Linked DNA regions of Homo sapiens. The protein of the gene in region 2 interacts with the protein of the main gene of each other region in a biochemical or structural test. Each region holds a gene or a part of one and is shown on either strand. Other genes may lie near its edges.

Region 1 (3,809 bases), on a different chromosome or scaffold from region 2:
CCAGGGAGATGAGGCAGGGGCTAGAAAGAGTAGGGAAGAGGGGCTGGGCCAGTGAGGAATGGGGAGCATGACAACTGTCAGGTGAAGAAGGCAAGAGGCAGGACACCATGAACAGATGGGCCCCCTCTCTCCCTCTTTCCTCCTGTGATATAAATCTATGTCAAAAGATCTATCAAGATGTGCATCAAACTCTTACCAGTGGTGACTCTTGGAGTGTGGGATTTGGGGAAATGGAGCTGACATTAAAATTCTACTTTATATTTATAGACTTCTAGATTGTTCTATAATAAGCATGAATTACTACTTTTAACATTTAAAAAACCCACAAAACTAAAAGTTTAAAAAAGCTGGGTCAGCTGAAATAGAGGCCTCACCAGCGGCGGTATTTGAGCCCTGCTCCTTCGGGTGGGCTGAGACCTTCAGGTCATGGCTTTTGCTGACCGCTGGCTGCCCGTCATGCTCCACCTGGCAGGTGAGCTTCACATCATCCCTGTGGGCAGATACATTCACCAGGAGCCAGCTCATCCAGTTGTAGGTACCATCCTTGTTCTCTGTAACGGTTGAGGCCGTTTCTGTCCGGGACACGTTTCCATTCTCCAACCAGGTCAGCTGTAGTCTCTGGGGGTAGAACTTCCTCACCTGGCAGGTGACATTCACCTGGTTCTCTGCCCTCACGGGCTGTTGAGTAACCTCCAAGGTGGGTGGAACTGAAACAGCACAGGGCAGAAGCTCTGACCTTGTGGCACAGACAGATCACAGGGAGGGCTCCATAACGTAGCTCCCCCACCACGGTGAGGTCATCACCAGGACAGAGCTAGGCAGGCATCAGGTGCTCAGACATTGAGGGTGCTCTTTGCATATGAATGAAATTACTAAGCACAACGCCCAGCACACAGTAGGTGCTCAAGGACTGGTAGCTCCTACTAGGCTAAGAATGAGGGAAATCTATAAGCACCACCCCTGGCATGCAGTTGGAATGTTGTAACTGTAGCAAAATAAAGAAAATCACCAAGCACATAGAGGCTTAGTTCATAGTAGGTACTCATTAACTGTGTTTGCTATCAGTGAAATAAATGAAACGGCTAGCACAGTCCTTGGCACCTGGTGGGTGGTGTGGTCACCCAGCCACTGCCATTAAAATGTTAGTAAGTGGCTGGCACATCTAGGGGCATGGGAGGTGGGCAGTTAGGAATTTAGGTTCCAGGCATTTCAAGCCCTGGAGCAAGAGTAGAGCTGGATGAGTGGAGGGTGGTGGGGGGTGGGCTTGGCGGTCAGGTGTGGGCTTGGGCTGGGTGAGGGTCTTCTACCTCGGATGGTCTCAGACAAGTTGGCAGTCCCACGAAGAGGGTCCCCCTGCAAGGTGACGTGGGCCACCTCGCAGATGACTTGAGAGTGAACGTCCTCGCGGGTCAGCACCACCTTGGCTGTGCTGTGGATGCTGTAGGACACGCTCTCTCCTACGGGGTCCACGTTGGTCTGGAAGTCTGAGAGCTCATTCCCATTTTTGAACCATTTCAGGGTGATGTCTCTGGGTGAGAAGCCGTGGGACTCGCAGGTGAAGCTCACTGTGTGCTGAGGTGTGGCCCTCGCCGCAGGGCCCGATACCACGGGGGCAGAGGGTTTGGCTACAAAAGGACCATCGATAATCAGGAGACATGACTCAGATGACAATCACTAACGATAAGTGTGTGACACGTTAAGAACCTTCTGAGACATTATTTTTTATCCTTCCAATAATGTGGAAGGATTAATGAGGGCGGTGTCCTTATTGTCATTTTACAGAGCAGGATGCAAAGGTTGGGAGAGGTGAGGACCCATGTGAGGTCAGACAGTGTAGGGGCAGGGCCCAGAGGGAAGTCCAGGCCTGAGTTCAAACTTCTCCACTCCACACAGGGTGACTTCCAGCAATTTGGGCACAGGATCAAAATTAACGATCCATCTCATCCTTGGTATTAACTGTTTCTACCCTGCCTCCCCTGGCAACAGTGCCAACCTCAGAGAGAGCGTTTATAGAGGTCAGTGCAGGGAGTAAGCAGCAACGTGGCATCACCATGAGAGCTGGAACCAGGCCGCTCAGCCCATGAGAGGGGCGGCCTGGCACACCCAGCTCCTTGTCTGTAAAATGGAACAGCAGCATTTCTCCTTTCTGGGATGCAGCGAGGATTAAATGAGGCAACAGAAGCAGTTTTGCTTTGGATAAACACAGAAGATGCTTCACAAAAATAAGCAAAAACAGATCTAACTTTAACCCAGACTTTATTCATATCCAAAGCTCTCTCTTCAGGTATTTATGAATTTACTTCATATTTTTCATTTTCTCCACAAATATTCCAGCAGGGTCTAATCTGTGCCAAGTGCTAAATTTGAAAGGAAGGGATACTTTTCTGAATCTGCGGTCTTCTTTGGTGTCAGTTTTAGATAGACACTAAAGATCACCAAGTGTGGAGAAAGCCAAAGTGGTTAATTATCAATTAATTACACAGACACAGGGCGCCCAAGCAGGCAGAAGCACTTCCTGGGTCCTGAAAGCACACACATGGCTGAATCAGAACGCGGGCTGTTTCTCCCTGCAGATGGGTCGTAAACGTGTCTCCAAATTGCTAATCATTACCCCATACCTCCTATCGCAGTCACCAGGAAGCACATATCACACATACTTGCATTTGTAAATATTAACTTCTCCCTCACACCCATCAAACATTTTGAGGGCACAGTAAGGAGGGTGTCACTTGAAGAAGTCAAGTCATTGAGGCCAGCGGCCTGGATGTCCCCACAGGGCTGAGGGGCTGCAATCAGTTCCCATTTATCCAGGGCTTCTCTGGAGCTGGACACTGGCTGCTCCCTCCATGCCCGTCAGCTCTTTAATCCTCACTCCATCTCTGTGAGGGGATCCTCGTGTGAGCCCCTTTTAGGACAAAGCTCAGAGAGGCCCAGGGCCAAAAGTGGATACAAACCCCACCCTGTTAAGAAGAGGGAGGATGAATGCAAGCACAGAGCCTGGTATGCAGCAGGTGCTTAATAAATGACCCCTGTGACTGTTATCAGGAGGTCTGGTCATTACTGCTTCCGAATCTACACATTTATCCTTCAGGCAGCAGAACAAAGCAGAGCAGAAACACCAAGAAAAGGCTCAAACCCTGCTCCCTGTGGCTCATGACAAACCCAAATGATACAAGGAGCAGAAACCACCAAGTGAGGATTCTCTCCCCTTTTCTAAACAATCCCCTCAGGAAACAAGTTTGGCGAATTGGCTTTCAAAACACAAGATCACAGGCGCCTCCCTCCAGAAGAGCCATTTACAGAAGCTGGAAGCATTTTAAAGGAGGAGGGAACAGACTCCTCCGTGACATCTTGGTGTGTCGAGGCAGGGAGGGTTCTGGGGCCGAATTGGAAGGATTTGCTGGGATTCCGGCGGTCATTTAGACAAAAACATTTTCAGGATGGAAGGTTTCCCCACACTGAGGCTGGATCTGAGCAGGGCTTTGTCTGGGGCCCCTACCTTGGCCCCCGAGGCCTGTATCATAAGAGGGGGTCTGGCCAGGCCACTGGGGCCTCCAAAGAGCTGTCCCGGGTGCACGTTGTTCAGAAGCATCCACACCCTGAAAAGCTGTTCTCCCATCTGGCACCCCAAGAGGACCATCTTTTCCAACTTGTCCTCCGTGACCTCTGGGTGTCTATCCCAGGGGTTTTCAGTCCTGACTCTGTATTAGAATCTTCTGGATTAATTAAAAACTTTAGATGCCTAGGCCCATGCCAGGCCAATTGAAGAGGCATTTCTGTGGTGGAGCCTGGGATTTATTTCAATGTTT
Region 2 (3,909 bases):
GGCCGGGGCTACGGGGACCCCGTGGGAGGAGCTGGAGAGGTGCAGGCCCAGGGCGTCGTCCGAGTGAGCAGCGGTGCTGGCCGTGTGGGACCCGGGCCCGCTTAGCACCATGGACGGGGTGGGCTCACGACCCTCGACTGCGGGGCCCGGGCGGCGGCGCTAGCAGATCCAGCGGATGAAGCGGTCGAAGAAGCCGGGTTGCGCCAGGCTGTCATAGTCCTTCTCGTGGAACACGGCGGCGCGGTCACCCAGGCTGAGCGTGGTGAGCACGTCCATGTCCACGTCGCTGCCCAAGGCCAGCACGGTGGGTACCACGTTCTGCTTGCGCATGGAGTGCGCCGACTCGTGCAGACTGTCGTTGCCCGTGACGCCGTCCGTGAGGAACACGAAGGACAGCTCTGCGTGCCTCCGGGCCCCGCCACGCGGGCTGCGCACGATGGCATTGATGGCGTGCACCACGCCTGCGCCCACGTGCGAGAAGGAGTTCAGGTATTGTGTGGTCTCCAGCGCCTCGTGGATGGCCGTGAGGTTGTGGCTCAGCGGGAAGGCCACCTGCTGCTCGCCGGGGCCACCAAACTGCAGCAGCGCCACGCGTGCGTTGAGAGGGTCGTCGTCCCTCCGGGCCAGCGTCAGCCGCCGCGCCACCTGCTCCACGAAGCGCCGGGCCTTGTGGAAGTTCTGCTCACCCAGCCGCTCGGAGCCGTCCAGCAGGAAGACGATGTCCACGGGCCGCTGCGTGCACTGTGCCACGGACAGCTCTGTGGGGAGACGCAGGTGCGGGCTGGGCGGAGGGGAGGTGGGCAGGACCGGGCAGGTGCCAGCCCCGCACCTGTGCCCTTCCATTCGCACCCTGCCTGCAACCTCACAGACCACTGGGCTCTGCGGGGGCGTTTCTGCAGGGCAGCCCTGGGTGTGGGTCCTTAGCCCAAGACACTTTCAGGCGGCACTGCTGGGAGCCGCCATCTCCTCTGCTGGTGCTCCCAGGCCTGAGACCCTGACACAGGCCCCAGGCCCTGTCCACCTGCTGAGCACCATCCCTGCACAGGCTGCCCTCCTGGGAGGGAAGGGGCCCAAAGCATCCTTTCATGGCTCAAGAATTTGCTGCCCACAAAAGGGCCACTGTCTGTGTAGTGTGGGAGGTACTTAAGGAGGACCCTGGCTCTGACACCCCCAGCCTGACCCCTCAATCGCTGGGTCCCAGAGCTGCTCAGAACACCTAGAGCTGGCTGGGCCACGTCCCTCCCGGAAAGACCAGGAGCCCCTGACTCTTCTGATTGGCCATGGTGGGGAGCAGTGGGCACAGGGGCAGCCAGACCTTCTGTGGCAGCCCAGGTGGGTTCTGCCCTATGACTCTGTTACCAAGTGGGGCCCCCACCTGCCTGGGTGGTCACCAGCCCTGGGCATCGGGGACAGCTTGGGGGCCTGGCCATAGCCACAACCCAGGCCAGGCTGCCTACCACACGTGTGGGTGTCACGTGGGGCCAGAGACCACAGGACAGGACACGGACAGTCCTTGCGTGGACCTGGCCCTGTGGCCTCACCAAGACCTCAGCTCCTGGGATGGGGGAGGGGAGGGACAGAGCCAGTTTCCCCAAGGGTGTCTGCTTCTCAGCCCAACCCCTGGACGTCGTCACAGCTGGTACATGGACCCCCAGGAATGCACACAGAGGACCCTGACCCGAAACTCGGTTTCTGGGGGCCCTGGAGGTGCAACGGTCCAGCCCCGCAGGCAGTGAGCAAAGCTCTGAACACAGCAGGGTGACCTCACGCTGCACCGCAGCCTTCACAGAACGCTTGAGACATGGACGCCGTCTGAGCACGCACGAGCTGGCAGATGGGGTTCCCTCAGTGAGCTTATGAGTGACGCAGCTCATTCAGTGAAAGGAAGGGCAGCCTCCCTGTTAAGGCCACACCTAGGAACCGGCTTAAATGTCCAGAAACTCCTCAGGTACCGCTGGGCTTCCCAAACCCCCTCAAAACTAATAACATTTTCACTGCTGTCACCAAACATATGGAGACAGACATGCAAGGGGCAGCTGGTTTTGGGGGTCTCTGTCCATTCATCAGTGTCTGTGGGGCCTGGAGGAGACGGGGAAGCTGTGGGGGCCGGCCAGGCACAGGGAGGCTGAGGCTGTTGGGATGTCTGTGGACTCTGCTCTCCTCCTCCTGTGGAGGATCCTTCATCCCCACAGTGGGAAGACCAGCCTGGCCTGCCCTGTGCAGTGGGTGTGGGGACGAGAACCTGGCCCTGAGAAATGGTCACAGCCGTGCCCGGCAGGAGCCCAGCCTGGATGAGGGCTCCTGCAGTCAGAACGTCGGGGTCAGCTCGCCGTGGGGGCCGCTCCCTTTGGATGGTGATCCCTGCCGCTCCCCAACATTGTGGACCCTGGGATTCTCTGCTCAGTCCTCTGAGGACCGCAGAGGTTGTGCCTGGTGGATGCTCCCCCGACTGTGCTTTTGGAGACCCAGAGGTTGGGCTGGAAGGGTGCAGACACCCCGGGATCAGGGCTGCTGGCAGGCAGCTGTGGCCATTCGCCCTACTGTGCATGACACCAGCCCAGATACGTCATGGTGCCAGGACTGCCAGCTTCCCCCAGGACTATCTGCTGCCCAACCGGAAGCCTTCACCTGCCACCAGGTGGGCCGTGAGCGCCCACGAGTCACCATGCACGGGATTAGTGCCCACACCCAGCGAGGCTCACCAGCCTCTGGGGCCTGTTTCCGAGGCTCCGCTGGAACCTGGTGCTGGAACATCCTCCAGCACCTGGGCAGCACCCTCCCTCAGCCCCATCCCAGACGCACGGCAGCCCAGCTGGGCCGCTAAGTAAGGGCCTCCAAAGACTTCCACACCCAAACCCTGGAGCCTGTGAGGGTGACCTGATGCAGCAAAGAAGGACTCTGCAGACGGGAGTGAGTTAAGGGTCTTGCGAGGTCATTCTGGACTTGGGGTGGGCCTTAAATTCAATGACCAGGGTTCTTATAAAGAGAGCGGCCACAGGAAGACGGAGGAGAGACTGGAAGATGCAGCCGCAGCAAGGGACACGGTGGCCACCAGCATGGGAAGAGGCTGGGAGCTGCCCCAGAGCCCCTGGAAGGACTGTAGCCCCGCTGACCCCGATTCCAGATCTCTGGCCTCCACTGAGAGCCAGCCTGTCGGGGGCAGCCCTGGGAAGCTAGTGTGGCAGGGAGGGCCCAGCCCGGCTGGGCGGGTGCCCGGGCTTTAGCAGAGGGCCAGCGCGGTCTCGGGGTCCCCCACGATGTCCCTGTGCACCAGCTTAAAGGTGTCAATGAACAGCTCCATCCAGTCCTGCCGCTCTACCCCGGTGGCGAACTTGGCCCGCTCGGCGGTGTAGACCAGCACGGCCACCAGCTGGGAGTAGGCGGCCGGGTCCTGCGTGAGCTCCGTGGCGTTTAGCAACTGTTGGATCAGGGGAATGGTCCTGGGGAAGGTGGCGTCCGGCCCCTCTTCCGTGCGGAGGAAGGTGACCGGGGGCTCGCCGCCAGGCCACGGTGCATCTGCAAGGGAGCGTCCAGAGAAGACTGTAAGGCCTGCGGTGGGCGTCGGCCTAGAGCTCCTCCTCGGGCAGCCGCTCAGCGAGGCCAGAGTGAAGAGCGGCATTTGGGCTGGCGAGTCGGTAGAGGAAATGCAGGTGGAGCGGGTGTGTGGCTCGGCCTTGGCAGGAGGCGTGGGGGCAGTGAGCACAGGGACAGGAAGCTGGCAGGGAGCTAGGAGACCCGCACGGTGGCACCTTTGGGGGACACCACGGACCCCGAGAAAACCTTTCAGCACAAAACAGCTCCGTCCAAACCTGTGCCGGAGACAGGCCAAACTCCAGTAGGGCTTCCAGTGCCGCAGGCCCGTCGCCAGGAAGACCCCAGCCACCCCTCAAGAGCCCGCCTGAGAAAGCT

The links.
Region 1: the proteins of COL6A2 (region 2) and SIRPA form a complex in vitro, tested with the Homo sapiens proteins (one large-scale study listed by BioGRID).

Annotation. Positions count from the first base shown.
Region 1 is NC_000020.11:1,919,211-1,923,019, reverse strand, and holds part of SIRPA (tyrosine-protein phosphatase non-receptor type substrate 1 isoform 1 precursor), read right to left. Parts: intron 1,626-3,809; coding exon 1,308-1,625; intron 708-1,307; coding exon 375-707; intron 1-374. UniProt on the Homo sapiens protein: Immunoglobulin-like cell surface receptor for CD47. Acts as docking protein and induces translocation of PTPN6, PTPN11 and other binding partners from the cytosol to the plasma membrane.
Region 2 is NC_000021.9:46,128,803-46,132,711, reverse strand, and holds part of COL6A2 (collagen alpha-2(VI) chain isoform 2C2 precursor), read right to left. Parts: intron 3,810-3,909; coding exon of another isoform or gene 3,784-3,809; exon of another isoform or gene 3,517-3,783; coding exon of another isoform or gene 3,221-3,516; exon of another isoform or gene 2,911-3,220; intron 759-2,910; coding exon 160-758; 3' UTR 1-159. UniProt on the Homo sapiens protein: Collagen VI acts as a cell-binding protein.